Homo sapiens: one gene and its partners. The protein of the gene in region 3 purifies or fractionates together with the protein of the main gene of each other region. This does not show direct contact. Each region holds a gene or a part of one and is shown on either strand. Other genes may lie near its edges.

Region 1 (7,611 bases), on a different chromosome or scaffold from region 3:
CATCTACTTTACTTTGTAAAATCAGGCTAATGTTTTGCAACTGTTGCTTTCCTTGTTTGTCGTTTTGGTGGTGGTTTGTTTTTGTTGTTGTTTTTGCCGTAGGGTTGAGGATTAAAGAAAGTATCTTAAGAACCTGAATGGTTTTTCACCTTACTGCTTTGCTGTCTCTATTTCATAGCCTTCACAGGTATTCAAATGAGAATACCCTTTACGTGACTTTTCATTATTTAAGCAAAAGTTTAGAGTGTCTACTATATGCCAGTCACTGTTCTCAGGACTTTGAATACAGTAAATACGGCCAAATATTCATATTCTACTGTAGTTTACTCTCTAATTTACAAATTAAAACTAGAATTTTGCTCCCTTGGTATTCCTAAATAAGATCTATGTTATGATCGTTGTTCAGACTGGGTAAAGAAGCAGCCCTAAACTTGATCTCTCCTGGTCTTAATCTCTAAGCCATTCTAAACCCAGATTTGAATGTTTCAGCCTAATTTTTCTCCAGACCATAGAAGCCCCTGTGTTAAATATGCAGTCCCTTTCATTGATACATGTATCATTTTCCTACCATTCTAGCTTCTTTTGTATTGTGAAAACAAATGAGAGTGAACAGTGGGGAAAATATGGGATCAGATAGGCCCAAATTCAGCACTGGTCTCTGCATTTTACTGGCTGAGCTTACTAGCTTGGTAACCATGAGCAATTTATTTGACCTCCCTAAGCCTCAGTTTTCCTAAATCCAAATGGGGTTGTTTGGTGGAATCAGAATGTTGTATGTAAATCTCCTGGTCCAATGCCTGGTGCCAGAAGCTTCATTAATGCAATTATCTTACCCCCAATCTTGCTTCTGCTACTCTGGCTATTGTGATTTGCCCACATGTCTGTTTTAAGCTTTACATTTTCCCCACAGTATGGGATGCAGTGGTAGACTGACTGAGCTTCAGCCTTGTCCCCCTATCAGCATGCTCACACAGTTGTCAAGATTTAATTTTTTTTCCTTGTGGGAAGGAGAAATCACTAATTTCCATGATTAGAAGATATACAAAATAGAAAAGTTTCAAGAAAAGGAATCTTAATCTTGGCACAAATCACTAAGGTAATTTGAATTGTTACAGGCAGACTTTCAACTCATTCTCCTAAACTTATTTAAATACGAAAACCAAAAATGACCTTTCACACTATGATCATACCTCACATTATTCATCTACACATCCAAACGGGATCGCCTCTGGGGGGAAAAAAATCTGTACTGCACCCAGCATTAATATTTTTTTTTGCTCATGCTATTTTCTGCCTGAAACACTCTTTTTTCCTAGGAATCCCCATCTATCAAAATGCCACTTTCTTTGAGGTCGTTTCTCAAGTACCACATTTAAGAAATATTTTCTGATATCCATCCTCTTCTACACTCTCCCAAACTGTACACGTTCTGTCCATTAACTCTCCAGAGCATTATACCTTTCTTACAGCACTTACTGTCCAGTGCTCCTCTTGTTTGTTTTTATTGCGTTGTTGTAGGTAGAGTTTATGCCTTCCCTAAAAGGCTGCAGACTAGGTCTTATTCCACTCTGTGCTGTCATACCTGGCACAAGACCATTCACATCATAGGTATTCAGTAAATATTTGTGGACGTGAGCTGGCTCTTGGAGTATGACAAAACTGATCAATAACTTTTGTCCACAATTATGCCCAGCATCAGCACAATGGCTATCATACATTAGACACTCAAATATCTATAAAATGAAAGAGTGAATAGTAAGTCATCATTCTCTCATTTGGGAGCTTCTTAGGGTGTCAGATAAGCATATATTAAGCACCTCCTATATAACTGGAGCTGTAAGAACTGATCTCTGCTCCTCAATTTAATTGGAAAAAAGTAAATTGTTACTAATATCTGCAGACTTTGAAGATGGTAGGTGTTTGAGTAGGGATGGCATGGAGAGCTTAATATAGAATTGTTTGCATTGTGAGAGATACCCTCTGCTACCTGAACTCAGAAACCAAATAGATTTTTATATCAAATATTTGGACACTTAACTTGTATTTCCACTCCTAGGTATATATCCAAGAGAACTTAAAACATGTTCACACAAAAACTTGCACACAAATATTTGTAGCAGCCTTATTTGTAAAAGGCAAACTCAAATGTCCATTAATTATTGGATGACTAAACAAAATGCGATATAGCCATACAATGGAATATTATTCAGCAACAAAGAGAAACAAAGTAGCAATACCTGCTGTAACATGGATAAAACTTGAAAATATTAAAGTGAAAGAAGTCACATACAAAAGGCAACCTATTATGTGATTCCATTTATTTAAGATGTCTAGATTAGGCAAAACTAATAGAGACAGAAAGTACATTAGTGGATGGGAATGGGAGTGACTGCTAGTATGGAGTTTCCTTTGGAAGTGATGAAAATGTGCCAGAATTAGATAGTGGTGGTGGTTGCATAACCTTATATACTAAAATATCTTGTATACTAATATACAGTTGACACCTGAACAATGAGGGGGTTCGGGGTGCTAACCCCTGTGTTGTCAAAAATCCATGTATAACTTCTGACTCCCCAAAAAGTTAACTACGTAAATAGCTTACTGCTGACTGGAAGCCTTACCAATAGCATAAATAGTTGATTAACACATGTTTTATATGTTACATGTACTATGTACTGTATTCTTACAATAAGCTAGAGAAAGAAAATGTTACTAAGAAAATGATAAGGAAGAAAAAATATGTTTACTATTTATTATTCGTTAAGTGGAAGTGGATTATCATAAAGGTATTCATCCTTGTCATCTTCACATTGAGTAGGCTGAGAAGGAGGAAGAGGAAAGGTTGGTCTTACTGTCTCAAGTGGTGGAGGCAGAAGAAAATCAGCATATAAGTAGACTCATGCAGTTCAACCCATGTTGTTCAAGGGTCAACTGTACAAAAAAAATCCTGAAATATACACTAAAGGGGTCAGTTTTATGGTATGTGAATTATATCTAAAAGAGAGAGATACTTAGACTTGAAGAATAGAGAATTTTGAATGGAGCCAGAAGAAAGAAGCAAGAGGTGTGAAAGCAAGGAAATGATCATTCTTTCTCAGATCCTAGAGAGAAATATAAGCAGCTAGGTACAGGGCTAAAGGTATGTTAAGGATCAGGTGAGGATGGATATGAGGATAGCTTCTGGGTTTTTGTCTTAATGTAGCAGGGATTTTGGTAAATACTTAGACTACAGAGGTATTAACAAAGGAGAAAAACATCTTATGACCTTGAAGGAAGCTTCAGATTTCTTCTTGATTAGGTCAAGGATGTGGTATATGGTCTTTTTGGTTTCTGTGTTACGGTCAGCTGAGTTTAAAGAGTGGGAGTATTCTAAGGTAAGGAGTCTAGTAGCAATCAAAACAAAGTTACTGGGGAAGATGGGAGAATAGAGACTAGACAAAGATGTTAGAATTTGATTCTAAAGCTCTCCTCAGGTAATAAAAATAGATAAATCTTAATGAGAAGGAACCAAGGGCAGTGATTTGGAGAAGTCAGTACAAATAAAGGTATTCATTTGAAGAAATATTTGAGTGCCTTTTATGTGCCAGGCACTATTAAATAAAACTATAGCTATTTTCCTTATTTGACTTTTTTTCTGAAGATAAAATCTTATGAGTGTGATTAATGGTTCTACAAGCATGGGTAGTTCTAGATATGATACCTACATTTCCCTAAAAGATTGTACTGATTTTTAATGATAACAGCAATGTATAAGGATGTTGTTTTCACCACGATTTTACCAGCAAAAATATTTGGCTAGTTGAACACACATAAAATTATTGTTCTCTTTGCTTATAATCTGATAAGTGTTTCCATACCTTGGAACCTGGATCTGTTGGAACATGAAGGAATTCAGGACCCTTATACATGTTACCCCATATGGCTTCTTTAAAGGATATGGATTTTTGAGGATCCTAGAAATCAAAATTCTCTAATTTTATTCAGCTCAAAAAAAAATTTTATTCAGTGCTGCTGTCCTTATTTTCTGAATAATATTCAGATTCAGACCACACTGAGCCATAATTCCAATTCCCACTTGACTAACATTTATGTAGTATTGTGCTAGGCACTACATGTTATCTTAATTCTAATAATTTGGCATTTTTCCATATGAGAAAAATAAGATTTAGAAAGATTAGATTACTTGCCCAAAATCACTTAACCAGTAAGTGGTAGAGACAGGATTTGAATGCAGATCCTCTAAGGCCAGTGTTTATTCTCATACTGCATGATCCCTCAGTATCACTACTAAAATTTACTGGAGGATAATGGAAAGTGGAAAATCTGAACTGGAACTTGGGACAATCAAGCACTGACTTACCTGTGTTCATAATGAAGCATTTAGCAGAGATGTTGTTTGTTGTTTTGTTTTGTTTTTACTGGGGAGGCTATAGTACATAAACAGAGCGAAAGATCTTGGTATGGTTAAACCCACATTTTCAAGGCCTTCTGTGTTCTCCCTGATGATCAGGTACCTACTACCCCAAAATCTGTGATGGTAACAAAGAAGGAGGAAGGCAGCTGTAGAAAAGCAACGGCCTTTGGGTATACCCAGTAAGATTTATGTGATTGTAGAAAGAGCAGGCAAATGGCTTGGCCTTCAGAGAATCCCACAAAGTAAAGTAACCTTTTAAAATAGTAACTTAAAGTCTGACATAAGATTCTTAACAGGATATTCATCACAAGATAAGATATTCAAAGCATAGCGTGTAAGACATTCAAAGCATATCAGCAAAAAAGGAGAGATTCCTTCATTTTTATTGAAGTATGGTATACTCACAAAACAAATTTAATATCAGGAATATAAAACAAGAGATACGATGTTCCAATTCTGGCTTTAGTCGGATATTATAAAATTTAATCCCAATTTATAGATAAGGCAATTCAAGGCTCGAGATTACACACCAAATAAGTGGACTCTAGGCTGGGTGTGGTGGCTTCTGTAATCCCAACACTTTGGGAAGCCAAGGCAGAAGGATCGCCTTAGCTCAGGAGTTTGGGACCGGCTTGGGTAACATAGTGAGATGCTGTCTCTACAAAAAAATAAAAAATAGCCAGACATGGTGGTATATACACATGTGGTCATAGCTACTCAGGAGGCTGAGGCCAGAGGATCGCATAAGCCCAGGAGTTCAAGGCTGTGAGCTGTTATCGAGCCACTGCACTCCAACCTGGGCTACAGAGCAAGACTCTGTCTCAAAAAAAAAAAAAAAGGAGGGGGGAGCCTCTAGAACATAGGCCTTTAATCTGTGTGGTTGTTTTGCAATTTATATGTATAATTTTTAAATAATATGTTGGCCGGGCACAGTGGTTTGTATCTATAATCTCAACACTTTGGGAGGCTGAGACAGGAGGATTGCTTGAGGCCAGGAGTTTGAGACTAACACAGGCAACATAGCAAGACCCCATCTCTACTAAACAAAATAATAATAATTTAATATGGTGGGTTTTTTTGTTTTTTTTGTTTTTTTGAGACGGAGTCTTGCTCTGTCTCCCAGGCTGGAGTGCAGTGGCGCTAGTGAGCTCATGCAATTCTCCTGCCTCAGCCTCCCAAGTAGCTGGGATTACTAGCGCTTGCCTGCTTCAAAAGAAATGATTTCCAGCACCCCATTTTTTCTTTTCCAGCCTCAAAATTCATATCTCCTTTTTTTCCCCCATGTCCACATGTCCTTCATTCCTATACTTCATAGCTTTAATTCCTGTTCTCTTGATACAAACCTTCATGTTTGTTGCTTGATGGCATCATAATTATCATAACTTTTTGGCTTAATAACAGTAGCAGTTATATCAACAAATAATAAAATGTTCATACTTTTGAGCCAATAATTCCACATATAGAACTTCATTCTGAGAAAATACTTTAAATAAGAAAAATAGTTAAAGGCACAAAATGTTAATAGCACTGATATCTATACTGTCTAAAACTTGAAACCTTCTAAATATTCAACAATATAATAATGCCTAAGCAAATTATTGCCTATCTACTCAGTGGGCTGTAAGACATTCATTTTTCACAATAGCGTCTTTAAGAATACATTGAAAGATGTTGTAAGAATGTTTTTGCAAAAATGAAAAGGAGAAACATCAGAAGAAAAAGTAGAAAAACTAATGTGATTGGTGTCTATTTCTGAAGCATTTATATTTTCTATATAATAATAATTTACATTTACTGACCACTTACTTGTGTCAGGAACAATACTCAAGCAACATTATAGAAGCAACAATTTGTAGTTATTGAAAACTGGTGTTCTAGAATCAAATCTGAGCTTCATCACTTACTAATATGTGGTCTTGAAAAGGAAATGGAGGATAACTATGTCTACATTAAATTATTAAATCTATATAAAGTATTTGGCACATACAAAACCTACAATAAGAATGTTTTTGTTATCAGACATTTTATAAATATGTCTCATTTAATCTTCACATCCTCACAGTAACCTCATTAGATAGTGTTAACGTTCATTTTACATGAAAGAAAATTGAAACTTCAAATGTTTAAATACTCTAGGTTAAATAACTTGCCGAATCACTTAACTAATAAGCAGTAGAGTTTTTATTCAGAGCCCAAGCTATGGTTTCCACTTATGACTCTGAGAGATGAGGTTGCTGCAGACTAATGCTTTTGCTAAGAACAGGAAAGATGAGAATTAAAAAGAAAAGTGAAGGCATCAGAGACCTGCTGAGGCATCCAGGACTTAAGAAACCACAACCATAGAACCAAAGGAGCTTCAGAGAAGTGGGCTGATGTTCCATGCTTCTCTTTTTTCCTAGGAATTTGCTAATTCTTAGAGCATGACAAGATGCTGTGAAACTTAGCAGAGGGTTTCTTCTAAAAGCAGAGAAGCTGTTAGTTTTATGGGGCGGAGCAGACAAAACTTGGATTTTAGAGATCTCCAGGTAGCTAGTTCTTGGGTCAAGATCCCTAGAGAAGGACAGTACCCAGAAACTTTTTTAAAACTTGTTTTCCCCTCACAGTGTTTGCTAGGCAGAGTCTAGAACTGTAAGAAAGTTAATTTGTATTGCTTTAAGCCAATAGCTTTGGATAACTTGTGACAGCAACAATATGAAACTATTACAGAGACATGAGGAAATGATGAAGAAGTCTAACATACATATGACTGGAGGAGAGAAAGTTAGAAGCAGTAATATTTTAAGAGACAGTGATTGAGAATTTTCTAAAACCGATGACAAATATCAAGCCATGGATTTGAAAAGTGCAAGAAACGACAAGCAGAATAAATACAAGGAGTACCACACTTTCATTCTTCATAGTAAAAATAAAACTGTTGAAAGTAACCAGAGGAAAAAAGACACATAATCTTCAAAGGAACAATTAGACTGACATCTGACTTGTCAACAGAAATAATGGGGGCCAGAAAACAATACAATGTAACTTTTTTGTTTGTTTTTTTGCTTTTACCTACTTGGTTTATTTATTTTTTATTTTATTTTATTTTATTTTGAGATGGAGTCTCCCTCTGTCACCCAGGCTGGAATGCAGTGGCGTGATCTCAGCTCACTGCAACCTTTGCCTCCTGTGTTCAAGCGATTCTCCTGCCTCAGCCTTCC
Region 2 (7,611 bases), on a different chromosome or scaffold from region 3:
AGCTTCAACTATAGGTTTGTAATACTGGAGACAACTGTATTTAACTTTATCATGTTTTATATAGGTAGAAGAGAGTGTGTGTAAGGGTGTGTGTCGGAGGGGTGTTGTGGTTTCTTAGTTTGTAGAGATGAATATTAATTTTATGGTCTCTTTATACTTTTCTCCTTTGTTTATATATGTGTGTTTGATTATATTGGCAGTCTTTTAAAAAGAACTCAAATGTAAGTCAGTTTTAAAATTTTAGACCAAGGACGATTTATGTTGGTTTCATAATACTTTTAGTTACTTTTAAAAGTGACTAAGAGAAAATGAGTACTTTTAAATGTAGAATTAAACAGATACGTAATTAATTCCTACACACATAACTGTTCCATTCTTTCTCAATTCGTTGGATGTAGAAGTTAGAATAAGAGAATATTTGTACATGTGAATGTAACAAAGAAAACCCCCTTCTCTTTAAATTGGAGGTTAATAATCAACTGTAAATATAATATTTGGTCATCTGCCCTTCATTTTGATGCCTCACAAAACCTCAAGATCATTTTACATAGGTTTCATAAGGAGTAATATTGTAAAGGGTCTGTGATAAAAACAATCGCCATGGTATTTATATTTTAATTTTTAATTTTTATTTATTTTTTTTAAGACAGTCTCGCTGTGTCACCCAGGCTGGAGTGTGGTGGCTCAATCTTGGCTCACCGCAACCTCCGCCTCCCAGGTTCTCGTGCCTCAGCCTCCCGAGTAGCTGGGACTACAGGCGCCCGCCACCATGCCTGGCTAATTTTTGTATTTTTAGTGGAGATGGGGTTTCACCATGTTGGCCAGGCTGGTATCAAACTCCTGACCTCAGGTGATCCACCCGCCTCAGCTTCCCAAAGTGTTGGGATTACAGGCATGAGCCACCTTGCTGGGCCAGTATTTACTTTTTATAAAAGACTGATTTCTGAGTAGCACTTGTCAAAGTTTAGTGTTAATTTAACCATGTGAACATACCCTATTGTAGCAGATGCAAATAATGTCTCTTCTGTTCCATAGATAACTGGTTAAGGGAAGTTAATTTATGGTGCCCTACTTTGAAGGTCCTCTGTTACTATGGTAAGAATATGTCATTCTGCTTTTAACTTTGGAAATTAAAAATAAAGTACAGCACAATAAATAGTCATGTGTTTATTGTTTTTAAATTCTAGGTTCTCAAGAAGAACGTAAACAAATTAGATTTAACATTCATAGTAGATATGAAGATTACAATGTAATTGTGACCACGTAAGTATTGAGAAATTTGGGGAGGATGGATATTTATGCAGCCCCCAAATTTAAAAAAGAAATTGTAGTAGTACTATGTAGGAAAGTTTATGCTGTTAACTGTGATACGAAAGTAATAGAATGACTAATGTTGAGGATTCAGGCATTTTTTAGTTTGGTGTGTAATACCCATATAGGAGGTTTTTGTTAGTGAATCACCTCATTAATGGTGACTATAAAAAGGTTTTGCCTAGTTATTGAAAAAAGTCGTCTTGTAATAGTAATTTCTCAGTTAAGCTTAAAGTAAAATTTGAGATATCCCACCAAAATTATTTATATTTTTAACTTACAAATAAGTATCTGTAATAAATACAATGAAATTTCATTTTCTCAATGAAAAATTTGAGTTAGGGCAGAAATAAAAATGAAAAATAATACTAATAATACTACTTGGTAATAATTGATGTAAATATCTTGCACAGAACTTAATGCTCTTGTGTTACATTAGTTGATTTATTTAAAGTTCTATTTTAACTGTAGTTATTATTTCTCTCTACTGGCTTCTTGTGTAGGAGTCTGTCCTTTAAAAATTCATGCGGAATTTTATTTTTTCTTAATAAAACAGGCTCCATATGCAGTCTCAAGCTGCTAGCTATTAACTATTATTTCTTGGATCTAATCTGCTAGTTTAATAAAATATTAAGTTTTAAAGAGAAACATGTTTTAGCTTCACGTTCTTTTTTGTGCTTATTAAAATATAACACTTCATGGAGCAGATTACTTACAAGTTATACCCAAATTGACCTCCTCCTGGGTATGTAGAAGTTGTCCGATTGTAACATTAACATTTTCTTTTTTTTTTTTTTTTTTGAGACGGAGTCTCACTCTGTCCCCCAGGCTAGAGTGCAGTGGCGCGATCTCAGCTTACTGCAACCTCTTGCCTCCCGGGTTCACGCCATTCTCCTGCCTCAGCCTCCTGAATAGCTGGGACTACAGGCGCCCACCACCACACCCGGCTAATTTTTTATATTTTTAGTAGAGACAGGGTTTCACCGTGTTAGCCAGGATGGTCTCGATCTTCTGACCTCGTGATCCGCCCGCCTCGGCCTCCAAAAGTGCTGGGATTACAGGTGTGAGCCACCGCTCCCAGCCTTTTAACATTTTCTTTCAATTATGTATTGCAGCTTTCATAGCTTGGTTACAGTGTACATCAATAATTATTAAATACAAGTACGTCAGTATTTATTTGAGTATCACCCGTGTCTAGTGCTGTGCTTTAAGTACTGGCTGTTAGAAATGTGTAAATAAAAAATGATTTTATAAGACATTAAATTTCACTAGACTCCAAGCTCTTAAAGGTATAACCTTAGAGATGTTTTTTCTTTTGGTGACAGATATAACTGTGCGATCAGCAGTTCTGATGACCGTAGTCTGTTTCGACGGCTGAAACTTAATTACGCAATTTTTGATGAGGGCCATATGCTGAAGAATATGGGCTCCATTCGCTACCAGCACCTTATGACAATTAATGTAAGAGAATGTTTGTAAAGTTTTCCAAATTACTGTAAAATTTAGATTACGTAATTTAATATATGTAGTATTTATTAGCAGAATCTGTATTATGTAGTTTAATATATGTAGTATTCTGTGTTAGCAAGTTTTTTCTGTAAAAGGGAAGATAGTAAATATTTCACACTTTATGGACTAGATGGCCTCTGTCACGTATTCTTTGATTTTGTTTTTTAACAACCCTTTAAAAAATTATTAGGTCATAAGCCATAATTTACCTGTTCTATATGTTAAACTATTTATAAATAATCTTTCATCATCTCATAAAGGTGATACGAGGACACAAGTTACCTACTTATAAAAGAAGACCAATGGTTTTCGTATTCATTGCTGTTGATAATAGCGGACGTCAATTATTTAAATTACTATATCATTTATCACAGAATGTTAAATTATTAATAATGGTTTTAATTTATCTCTCCTCCCTTCACCTTTCACTGGGGAGGATAGACATGAAAGGAGTGGCTCTTTAAGAAAAAGCTAATATAAATTTTACCTTCATTCACAGGCAAATAACCGTTTGCTGCTCACAGGCACACCTGTACAGAACAATCTGTTAGAACTCATGTCGCTGTTGAATTTTGTTATGCCACACATGTTTAGTAGTAGCACCAGTGAAATACGAAGAATGTTTTCCTCTAAGACAGTAAGCATAAATGCATATTTTCTCCCAAATATGTTATTTGTGTTTTATCTGGGCCATTCTTCTGTTAGGTCTCTTTTGTTGTTTTCATAGTGCATATGCTCTATGAAGTAACTTTAAGTAGGTGATAACTCTATATTTGGATTGGTTTGGAAACCAGCCAAAATATAATGGGAAAGAAAATAGCAATTTCCCTAATCAATGGCCAGAAGTCTTGGTTAATATCCTAATTTTCTGAAGGATGACGATTTTAAATTGATGAAGAGCTCAGATATATAGTATGTGCGGAAAGTTTGATCATTACATCATCTGTATCAAAATTGGCTACGTAAATTAGTAACATTTCTTTATGGGTAAACTATAAAACTAGACAAAGCTAGAATATCCAGAAAATGCCTATGCTGAGAAATATATTCTGAAATAAAAGTTCATAAAACCAAAGTCACAACTAAAAGCGACAGTAAAGAAATCCTCTTCACAAGAAAAGTTTTGTTACTTCTTTATTGTTTAGGAAAAGTATAGTCTTCAAGAACTCCCAGTTTTTTCAATACCGCAGTGTTTACACTGATTCTTGGCTCTCTTCCACATCACTAATCTTTTGCAAGAATTTTCTGTGATACTCGTCCACTGCAAATTAACTGCCTTTTAAACATTTACTAATTTGAATTCCCTCCCACTTAATGTACAGTGTTTTAAATGGCCTAGCAGATTTTATGAACCATTTTCTATCTTCAGTTCATAATATATGGAGGACTCCTTCACATCCTAGAATAAAATTCTACTTCTTAATTCTCCAGAGTCACCAGTTCTGACTAAGCACTATTCCCCATTTTTAGACCAAGTGATTTGCATCAGTCTGCACTAGCTTCCTTTTGGGGCCATTTTCCACAAAGAAATAAAGGATTTTCTACCCCCCACGCTCCTCCTTACCCACACTTAGACACATTTTTCAATGAGAGTTATCTAGGTAATCGATACATGACTCATCAGTTGATGACTTCTGAACACCCATCTGGTACAGTTCAAATTGATTACTTCAGTAGAGAACATGATTACGTATCATAAAACTTCAAAATACATATGGAGCTTCAAGAAGTACATGGCAGCCCAGAATTCAGATGTGAAGTGCCATCTAGAATGAATCAAGTTTCTGCAGAAAATAACTCAGACTCTAATGAGGGAGATTTTTATGTTGTGTAATAATACTGTTATTGCAATAATTTAAGTGAATAATTCCTAAAAGGATATGTTTTTATTTTGCTCAGAAATCAGCAGATGAGCAAAGCATATATGAAAAGGAGAGAATAGCACATGCAAAACAAATTATAAAGCCATTTATTCTCAGAAGAGTAAAAGAAGAGGTAATGCATATCTACATGTTTTTTATTTTTATTGTTTTTAAAACTTAGGTTTTTCTCTTTACTAGAATGATTATCTTAAACTGTTTTTTCTGTCTCAGGTTCTCAAGCAGTTACCCCCCAAGAAAGATCGAATTGAGTTGTGTGCAATGTCGGAGAAGCAGGAGCAACTCTATTTGGGTCTTTTCAACAGATTGAAAAAATCTATCAATAACTTGGGTATAATCTGATTTTTACTCTTTTATGTGAAAAAGAATCTTGTACTGGGGATGCATTTTGTTTAGTCATATAATGGGATTTGTGCATTTTAAAAAATTATCTGGAATTTGAGGAAATAATTTTAAAACTTAGTTGATATATTTCAACAGTTATCCGCTTGGTTTTATTTTTTACTGTGTTCTCTTTGAGTCACAGAAAAAAACACAGAAATGTGCAATGTCATGATGCAGTTGAGGAAAATGGCCAATCATCCTTTATTACATCGCCAATATTACACAGCTGAAAAACTCAAGGAAATGTCTCAGCTTATGCTAAAGGTAAGGATTTCATATTATGTTAACACTAAGCTTTAATAAGAGGTTAAGTTGTTAGGCTATAAGATTGGTGAACCCAATGGGCATACTAAACCTTTAACTACATATTTAAGAAAAACTTTTTTTTTTCAGACCAGGTCTGGTTCTGTTGCCAAGGCAGGCAGTCTGGGCTCACTGCAACTTCTGCCTCCTAGGCTTAAGCCATCCTCCTGCGTTGGCCTGCTGAATAGCTGGGACTACAGGCACGCACCACCATGCCCGGCTAATTTTTTTGTACGGATGGGGTTTTGCCATGTTGCCCAGGCTGGTCTTGAACTCCTGAGCTCAAGCGATTCGCCCGCCTTGGCCTCCCAAAGTGCTGGAATTACAGGCATCAGTCACTGCACTGAAACACGAAAAACACATTTTAGACTAAGTTCAAAATGATCTGGGGGACATAAAAACAAAGAAGGACTGATAACCTACATTATAAGTCAGCAAACTATGGCCTTACGGCAGTGACTATTTTTATAAATAAGGTTTTACTATAACACAGTCATGCCTGTTTTTGTTTTCTGGGACTGCTTTCTCACTACAGGGGCAGAGTTGAGTACTTGCCTTACAGGTCATTTTGCCTACAAAGCCTAAAATATGATCTGGCCCTTTACAGGAACAGTTTGCTAACTCCTAGTCTAGACTTCCATAATGCACTTCTTTTTCATTTTATTTCTTTATAATTTTAGCAATTACTCTTTATTTTTGCCTCTTTCTCCTTTAACATTTTAACCTTATTTATCCTTACTGATCTTTGGTTGAAAGCAACCCATTTTCTTCCTTTTCTTTACTTTTTTTTTTGAGATAGACTTTTGCTCTTGTCGCCCAGGCTGGAGTGCGATGGCATGATCTCTGCTCACTGCACCCTCCGCCTCCCAGGTTCAAGTGATTGTCCTGCCTCAGCATCCTGAGTAGCTGGGATTACAGGCACCTACCACTACGCCCAGCTAATTTTTGTATTTTTAGTAGAGATGGGGTTTCACCACGTTGGCCAGGCTGGTCTCGAACTCCTGACCTTAGGTGATTTACCCACCTCGGCTTCCCAAAGTGCTGGGATTATAGGCGTGAGCCACTGCACCTGACCAACCCATTTCTTTTTAAATTTTTTTTTATTATTTTAAACTTATGGAGAATTTCAAACATTTATAAAAGTAGAATTGCATAATGAAACTGCCCATATGTTACTTCACCCCTTTGAAAGTTACCATTTGATAATAACACCACCCTTGTTTCATCTATACCCCAGACTTCTCCCCAGGGTTATTTTGAACCAAGTTCTAGATGTTATTTCATCTGTAAATATTTTAGTATGTTATCTCTCAAACAGTAAGGACTTCTCCCCCTTTATTATACCTAAAAGATTAATACTAATTTTCCTTGATAAGTCTGTTACACTAAAAGGTTCTATGATTTAGATATTTTATCAGGTATAAACAGTTTTATTAAACTTTTCTCATCATATTATTAATTATTTTTATTTTGAAGTATACTGTGTTTTGTTTTGTTTTAAGGAACCTACACATTGTGAGGCTAACCCTGACCTGATCTTTGAAGATATGGAAGTTATGACAGACTTCGAACTACATGTACTTTGTAAACAGTACCGACACATTAATAACTTTCAGTTAGACATGGACTTGATTTTAGATTCTGGAAAATTTCGAGTTTTAGGATGCATCTTGTCTGAATTGAAACAGAAGGTATTAAAAAAGAATGGCGTTTCTTTTGTATTTTCTCAATTACTTTAACTTCTTAAAGCAATTCTGGCACACTGACTTGCTTGAATTAGCCTATGTCTGTTCTGCATTCTTCCAGAACTTAGTGTTTTGAACATTTTCTTGACGTATTTTCTTGATTACCTCCTTTCCTCTGTTGAACCTCAGACAAAAACAATAGAAAGTTAGTAGACTGTATCTGTATTGATGTTTTAAAAAAATCTTAATTGTCATTATTTCATAGGTGACAATCTGTATGTGTGCTTCAAAATTAGTTTTTAAAGACACTATTTGTTAGTTATTTAAGTAATGCTGCCGTTTATGTGTGAAATAGCCTAAATTTGTAAAATCACAGTCCAGATAATACATACATAAGCAGTTGTCCACATTTTCCGACGTTTTTCTTATGAAAAGGAAGTAATTTAACTGTTCTTAAAATCAAAACTGAGAGCTAGCTTTTAGCCCTGAAGTTAAGGCAGTTTATTCATATATAGGCTGCAATAAGACATACGTCTTCG
Region 3 (7,594 bases):
GACCTTCACGGGGAAGGCTGGGTGCCAAAGTCCTGCCAGCTCACTCCGGCCCTGAGTCACAGGGACCCCTGGCCACACTTAGTCCCTAATGATGTTTGCAAGAGCAAGACCTAACCTAGGACCCAAAATGGTGGGCAAAGAGGGGTTCGGAAGGGGAGGGAAAGGTCAGGGCCAATAGGTGGACCCACAAATTTGACAGGCAGTGGGGTCAAGTGGTGAGGGGGGGGCCCAGAACCAACCCACCATCCTCCAGAAGGAATGCACTGTGTTAAGCAAGCGAGGCGGCCCCCAAGCTGAGCCTGTGAAGGCCCAATAGGACAGCAAGAAGTGGAGAGCAGACCAGGCACAGTGGCTCACACCTGTAATCCCAACACTTTGGGAGGCCAAAGTGGGAGGATCACTTGGGGCCAGGAGTTCAAGACCAGATCCGGCAACATAGAGAGACCCCGTCTCTACAAAAAATGAAAAAATAAGCTGGGCATGTGGCACGTGCCTGTAGTCACAGCTACTGGGGAGGCCGAGGTGGGAGGATCACTTGAGCTCAGGAATTCCAGGTAGCAGTGAGCTATGATCAAGCCACTGCACTCCAGCCTGGGTGATAGAGTGAGACTGTTTCTAAAAAATTTCAAAAAAATCAATTAAAAAAATACAAAAATTGGAGGGCAGCTGAGGCTAGGCAGGCCAGGAATTGGGTTGAAGTAGCCCCTGCCCTGTTTGTCCCTCAGGCCCTTGTCCCCAACAGGCCTGCAGCAGGAAGAATGCTTGCTACTTTGAGAGGACCTGAGGTCTTGGGTCCTTCCCCAGCACTGTGAGCTCCGAGCTCCCAGCTAAGCACGGTGTCCAGCAGTCGCTCTCAGGGTTCCAGTGAGGGAGGAGGGGAGCAAGGGCCCCCCGCATCCCACCTCCCAGCCTGGTACCAATACTGCTGCTTACCCAGGGACAGTACCTGCCTGGTGCCAGGCCACCACAGGTTTCCGCGCAGGGAGAGCCAGCTCCAAAATGCTCCTCTCCCCAGGAAGGGCTGGTGTCCTGGGGTGGCGGGGAGTAGGGAGACTCCCAGGGCCCTCACTGCCCACCTGCCCCACAGGGCAGCCATGCTGAGCACTCCCTCTCGCACATGGATTCTGCCTGGAGGCTTTGGCTCCAGAACAAACGCGCTGAGGCTGGCAACCAATGACTGAGCGAGCGGCTGCCTGCCTGGCTGGGCCTCCCCACCCCTGACAGATCGGATCTTATCAGGGCTGCAGGAACAGCCCTACCTGGACACCATCTCAGTGTCGTCTGGCTGTCTCGATCCAACGGCGAAGATTGGATCTGTGGGATTCTCTCCAGCACCAGAGCCATTTCCCATCACCTGCTGCTCTGCCCCCACCCCACCCCAAGATTGTTGTCAGAGGCCGGCTGGGAGTGCTCCCAACAGATCCCCATAGGGGCCACCGGCCAAAACATGGTGAGTCCCATCAAGGTGGATGGCAAAGACAGACCAAATACCCATCTAGGCAGACAGGGACGGCAGAAGGAGGGGACATCTGAACAGCCATGGTCCCCCAGACCCTTAAGCCAGGAGAGTAATGCTGTGGCCCCGTACCACTCTGGTTCTCCTGGGTCCCCTGCCCACCCCTCAACATGCCAAAACCCCTCCCTCGAGGGACCACTGCACTAGCTGTTTCCCACCTACAACATTGTTCCCTCACATGCTCATGGTTCATTCCATTGCTTCATCCACCTCCTCCAGGAGGCCTTCCCTGACTACCCTCACCAAAGGACCCCCACTAGTCAGCCTCTCTCACAACATCAGATGCGGCTGTCTTCATCGCACATCACCATGGGATTTTCTTGTTCTTACATCTGTCCATTTGTTTCTGGCCACAGAGAGACATCTGGAATGTCAGCTCCCTGGTGGCTCGGCCTCGTCTGTCTAGTTAACAGCTCTATCCCAGCTCCCAGAATGGTGCCCGGTGGGAAGGAGATGCTCAATATTTGGGGGCTGAACACGTAATTCTCTCCAGGACTTGTCCTCCTCCCCATCCTTTCTTCCACCACCACCAGCCTCCATCTGGCTGGACCTGGCTCAGCTTCCAGAGGTGCGTGAGCCACAGTGGGCTCCCAGCTCCTGGGTCTCAGCGCTGACTGGCATGGCCAGCAGGCTGTTGTTACTGGAGAACCAGCTGTGCCCAAGACCCGCAGTTTGGTTCAGAGCTGCCTCAGGGAAGAGCATGCTGCTGACATCGAGGCCAGGCCTAGTTGGGCGGCCCCACCTTGGCCAGGGTTGTGGGGTGAGGTCATGCCCAGCCCTGCTGCCCTGCCCAGGAGGGAAGTGCTGGGAGTAACCAGTACCAGCACAGCAAGGCAAGCAACTGGGGAGAGGAGGCACAGCTCCTGGGATCAGAGTTGGGGGTGGGGGCAGGAAGAGCCTGTACCAGCGCCACATCCCTCTGAAAGGGTCCAGGAAAGAACCTGCCCTAAGCAAGCCCACCTCACACTGCCCAAGTGGAGTCTCCTAGAGATACTGCCAGGCCCCTCGCTGCCCTGGCCATCAGACCCCTCCAACCCACACCCTCCATCCAAGCGGAAGCGCCCCAGCAACTGACGTGTCCCCATGGCTTGGGGCAGGCAGGCTGCACAGAGCCCCTGCTCTGCCACATCACCCAGGTGCCCAGCCTCGGCTCATGCCCCTTTTCAGTAATAGAAAGCATGTAACTGGATCTAGGGCCTTGCGGGCCCTGGGGGAGAAGGTGGACAGGACCTTGGGGGCCAATGGAGAAAGGTTCAAGGACAGGAGGCAGCTGGCCATGAGTTTGGGCTGTGGGGAGAAACCCCATAGGCAGGAGGGGGTCGGCAGTGGGGGCCAGCTGGGGTACAGAAAATCATCTCTTGGAATTTGGAGGAGGTGAGCGAACAGGAGGCCCCGGGGAGGAGCAGGAAGGCAGAGAGAAGGTTGGGAGCTGCCAGGGGCTGGGTTATGCCCCTTCCGGGGGGGCAGGCCCGGGAGCGCAGGGCCTGGGTTGCTCGGATGAGGTTTGTGTGGGTGCGGGTGAGGTCAGCTCGCGACCTGGGCTCCCCCGGAGAGGAAAGCTGCGGGTGGAGAGAGCGCAGGGAGTTTCAGGGCCCAGGCACTGGCTTTTGGGGGGCGGGTCTCTAAGCTCCCCACCCGAGAGTAGGAAGGTCCCATGGGACGGAGCGTCCTCAGGTTCAGGAAGTGACTGAGGGTCCTCAGGGGTGGGAGTCGCCGAGACTCTTGCAGGCTCTGGGCGGCCTATGTCCCCCTCCCTGCCTCACGCCCCCCAATTTACCTGGGCGCCGAGGCCCGGGCCAGGAGCGCCTGCTCAGCGGCGCCGCGGAGCAGGCTCATGCCCGCGTCACGGCGCGGCTGGCGGGGGCGGCAGGGCGGCGGCGGCGCCGGGCTCCAGGCGGGGACGGCGAGGGAGGCGCGGCCGCAGGGCTAGGGATCGGGCTCCGGCTGGGGCTCCGGCTGGGACTCCGCTCCGCTCCCCCCTCCGCCAGGTCTCGCCGCTGCGCCCCGCCCCCTGCCCCGCCCTGGCGGCCGGCCCCCGCCGTATTCCTCCGAGCCGCGGGACGCGCGATTCTGCCCTGGCGCCCTGGCACCCCCGCACCCGCTTCAGGTCGCCCCCGGTACCCCCAGCTCATTCCCACCGCCCCTCCCTGGGCCCCAAAGCCCACATGGCCTCTCAGCCCCTGAAAGCTGAACTCCACATCAGCTCCCAGCCCCCACATCTCAACCCCTTCACTTCTTCAGGAATCACATACACACCCATACGCCACATCAGCTCCCAGCCCCCATATCTCAATTCCTTCACTTCTTCAGGAATCACATACACACCCATTGCTCCCCTAACCCCATCATGACTCTCTGGGCCCTCACAGCCCAGCTCTCCCAGCCCCACAGTGACCTCCTCTGCTACCCCTCCTCAAGTAGCCGCACCAGCACCTCTGTCTTCCCTGGTCTCCTCTCCACCCTCAAAACATCCAGTTCTCCCATTCTAGGTCCCCCTGAGACTTTGCCCTCAAGCTCAAACTTCATTCCCCTTCATTGCTGCCCCCACCCAGCCCCCAACCCCCTCACCTCTGCCCTTCGGGCCTGTGCAGTGGTTGACTCACTGATCTGTCGGAATCCCCAGTCACAGGCCTCAGCTGTGCCAGGCAGGGACAAGAGAAGTTGCCCAGTGCCTCCTCTGGGGAGGAGCTGTCCCCCCTCTGGTTTTCACGTCTGTACCTTTTTACACCAGGGCTTCTCAAAGTGTAGTCCCTGGACCAGAAGCTTCCCATCACCTTGAAACTTGTTAGAAATGCAAATTCCCTGCCCTACTCAGACCTATGAAATCAGAATTTTTGGGGGTTTCCAGCAGAAATGTGTGTTTTAACAGGCCAGGTGATTCTGATGCACACGAATGTGTGAGAACCACTGCTTTAGACCATATATACAAAACAAAACAATAGGCCACCTGAACAGCCAAAATCCTGAGAAATGAAAATACCTCCACATCCAGCTACTGTCCAGGTGTCTCAGAGGAATAGGCCTAAAGCAGTGAGGGACCAAGGATCCCAACACCCACCCATGGAATGCATGCCCCTGCCCCGGAGACGCCTGGGCCTCAGCCTTGCCCAGGGAGCTTAAAAGGAGGCTGCCTCTGGATGTCTGAAAATTTCCCTGATGGTCATTGTGGTGTCTGTGATCAGCCTGAGCTAACCAGCCCCAGGCCCATGGCCAAGCTAGCCTGGGCCTCAACCTCCTGACCTCCCTATGCGTCTTTCAAACTTGACCTCACCTGCTTTGCTTCAAACCACAGCCCCTAAAGCTCCCAGCACTTGATTCATCATAGCAAACTGTTTTTCAACACCAGAAACCTCTAGGGGAGCTTTGGCCAACAACAACAACACAAATGAATTTTCACAATAAAAAGCCTTCTTTTTTTGTTACTGAGGCTGGAGTGCAGTGGTGTGATCTCAGCTCACTGCAACCTCTGCCTCGGGGCTTAAGTGATCCTCCCTGCTCAGGCTCCTCAGTAGCTGGGTCTACAGGTGTGCACCACCACGCCTAGCTAATTTTTTGGATTTTTTTGTAGAGACAGGGTTTCACCATGCTGCCCAGGCTGGTCACAAACTCCTGAGCTCAAGCAATCCACCTGCTTCGGCCTCCCAAGGTGCTGGGATTACAGGCATGAGCCACTGCACCCCATGTGATGATTTGCTTTTTTACTGTTGAATTTCGAGAGTTGTATATTCTACCTACTAGTCCTTTGTTGAATATGTGGTTTGCAAATATTTTCTCCCAGTTTTTGGCTTGTCTTTTCATCCACTTAACAGAGTCTTTCACAAAACAAAAGTTTTAAATTTCGATAAAGTCTGAATTATCCATGTTTCCTTTTATGGATCACACTTTTGTTGCCTAATCTAAAAACTCTTTGAATTTTCTCCTGTGTTTTATTCTGAAAGTTCCATAATTTTATTTTACATTTAAGTCTGTGATCCATTTTGAGTTGAATTTTATAGGAAGTGTGAGATTTGATAGAGGTTTTGATGTCTTTTTTTGGTTTAGGTTTGATTTCATTTTTTTTTTTTTTTGCCTGTGGATGTCTGATTGTTCTAGCTCTATTTGGTGAAAAGACTCTCATTGAATTGCTTTTGCAACTTCGTAAAAAATCAGTTGGACATATTTCTGGATTCTCTGTTCTATTTCACTGATCTGCATGTCTATCTCTCTGTTAATAACAGTCTTGATTACTATGCCTATATAGTAAGTCTTAAGGCCAGGAGCAGTGGCTCATGCCTATAATGCCAGTACTTTGGGAGGCCAAGGCGGATGGATTACTGGAGGTCAGGAGTTCAAGACCAGCCTGGCCAACATGGTGAAACCCCATCTCTACTAAAAATACAAAATTAGCTGGGTGTGGTGGCGTGTGCTCGGGAGGCTGAGGCAGGAGAATCGCTTGAACCTGGGAGGCAGAGGTTGCAGTGAGCCAAGATCGCGCCATTGCACTCCAGCCTGGGCAAAAAGAGTGGAACTCTGTCTCAAAAAAAAAAGTCTTAAAATCAGGTAGACCAGTGGTCCCCAACTTTTTGGCACCACAGACAGTTTCATAGAAGATAATTTTTCCATGGATGTTGTGGGAGTGTTTTCAGCATGATTCAAGCACAATACCTTTATTGTGCACTTTATTTCTATTATGATTACATTGTAATATATAATTAAATAATTACACAACTCACCATAATGTAGAATCAGCGGGAGCCCTGAGCTTGTTTTCCTGCAATTAGACAGTCCCATCTGGGGGTGATGGGAGACAGTGACAGATCATCAGGCATTAGATTCTCATAAAGAGCCTATGACCTAGATCCCTCGCATGCACAGTTCACAATAGGGTTTTGTTCCTATGAGAATCTAATGCTGCTGCTGGTCTGACAGGAGGCGGAGCTCAGGTGGTAATGTGAACAATGAGGAGCGGCTGTAAATACAGATGAAGCTTCATTCATAGCTGCTCACCTCCTGCTGTGCAGCCAGGTTCCTAACAGACCACAACCAGTACCGGTCTGTGGCCCAGGGATTGGGGACCTCTGAGGTAGATTGTTATTAATTCCTCCCAAGTTATTGGTTTGTTTGTTTGCCACAAGGTTTCACTCTGTCCCCCAAGCTGGTGTGCAGTGGCATGATCATAGCTCACTGCAGCCTTGAGTGCCTGGGCTCAAGGAATCTTCCACCCTCAACCTCCTGAGTAGCTGAGACCACCATGCCCAAGTAATTTTTTAAATTATTGTGTAGAGATGGAGTTCTTACTATGTTGCCCAGGTTGGTCTCAATCTCCTGGCCTTAAGTGATCCTACCAGCTTGGCCTCCCAAGTGTTGGGATTACAGGCATGAGCCAATGCGCCCAGCCCCAACTTACTCTTTTTCAAAATTGTTTCAGCTGTCCTGGTAATATTCTCTATCTTTCTATGTAAATTTTAGAATAATGTTATCTATATCTACAGAATATCTTGCTGGGATTCTGATAGAAATTACATTAAACCTGTATATCAATTGGGGAGCATTGACATTTTTACTATGCTGAGTCTTCCAATTCAAGAACACAGTATGTCTCTCCATTTATTTATTTATTTCTAATGTCTTTCATCAGCATTATGGAGTTTTCAGCATACAGGTCCTATACACATTTTGTTAGCTTTCCACCTAATTATTTTATTTACTTATTTTTGGTGATTTTAAATGGTATTGCATTTTTAATTTTGCTGCCCATGAATGAGTTCATTGCTGGTATATGGAAATAATTTTTGTATAATTATATTTTGCAACCTTGCTGAACATATTAGTTCTAGGAGGTTTTTGTCTTTTTTTTTTTGGTAGATTCTTTGAGATTTTCTACATAGATAATCATGTCATCTGCATGTAGAAAAGGTTTTTTTCCTCTTTTTCTACCTATTTGTTAGTGGTTTATCACATTGGCTAAAATGTTCAGCACTATGTTGTAGTATGAGCTGACATCCTTACCCTGTTGCTGATCTTCGGGGAGAGCATTCAATTTTTCATCATTAAGGACCAACGTTAGCTGTAGGTTTTTTGTAGATGCTCTTTATCAAA

Evidence for each region. The genes of interacting proteins can lie anywhere in the genome.
Region 1: the proteins of DOK4 (region 3) and HMG20A purify together in Homo sapiens (affinity purification with mass spectrometry; 4 studies listed by BioGRID and IntAct, with this or other methods). This does not show direct contact.
Region 2: the proteins of DOK4 (region 3) and SMARCAD1 purify together in Homo sapiens (affinity purification with mass spectrometry; 3 studies listed by BioGRID and IntAct, with this or other methods). This does not show direct contact.

The regions. Positions count from the first base shown.
Region 1 is NC_000015.10:77,423,726-77,431,336, forward strand, and holds part of HMG20A (high mobility group protein 20A), read left to right. Parts: intron 1-7,611. UniProt on the Homo sapiens protein: Plays a role in neuronal differentiation as chromatin-associated protein. Acts as inhibitor of HMG20B. Overcomes the repressive effects of the neuronal silencer REST and induces the activation of neuronal-specific genes.
Region 2 is NC_000004.12:94,273,703-94,281,313, forward strand, and holds part of SMARCAD1 (SWI/SNF-related matrix-associated actin-dependent regulator of chromatin subfamily A containing DEAD/H box 1), read left to right. Parts: coding exon 1-14; intron 15-1,035; coding exon 1,036-1,095; intron 1,096-1,187; coding exon 1,188-1,263; intron 1,264-2,636; coding exon 2,637-2,772; intron 2,773-3,319; coding exon 3,320-3,457; intron 3,458-4,719; coding exon 4,720-4,815; intron 4,816-4,913; coding exon 4,914-5,031; exon of another isoform or gene 5,032-5,220; coding exon of another isoform or gene 5,221-5,226; coding exon 5,227-5,348; intron 5,349-6,889; coding exon 6,890-7,078; intron 7,079-7,611. UniProt on the Homo sapiens protein: DNA helicase that possesses intrinsic ATP-dependent nucleosome-remodeling activity and is both required for DNA repair and heterochromatin organization.
Region 3 is NC_000016.10:57,483,012-57,490,605, forward strand, and holds the start of DOK4 (docking protein 4), read right to left. Parts: upstream 3,483-7,594; 5' UTR 3,294-3,482; intron 1-3,293. UniProt on the Homo sapiens protein: DOK proteins are enzymatically inert adaptor or scaffolding proteins. They provide a docking platform for the assembly of multimolecular signaling complexes.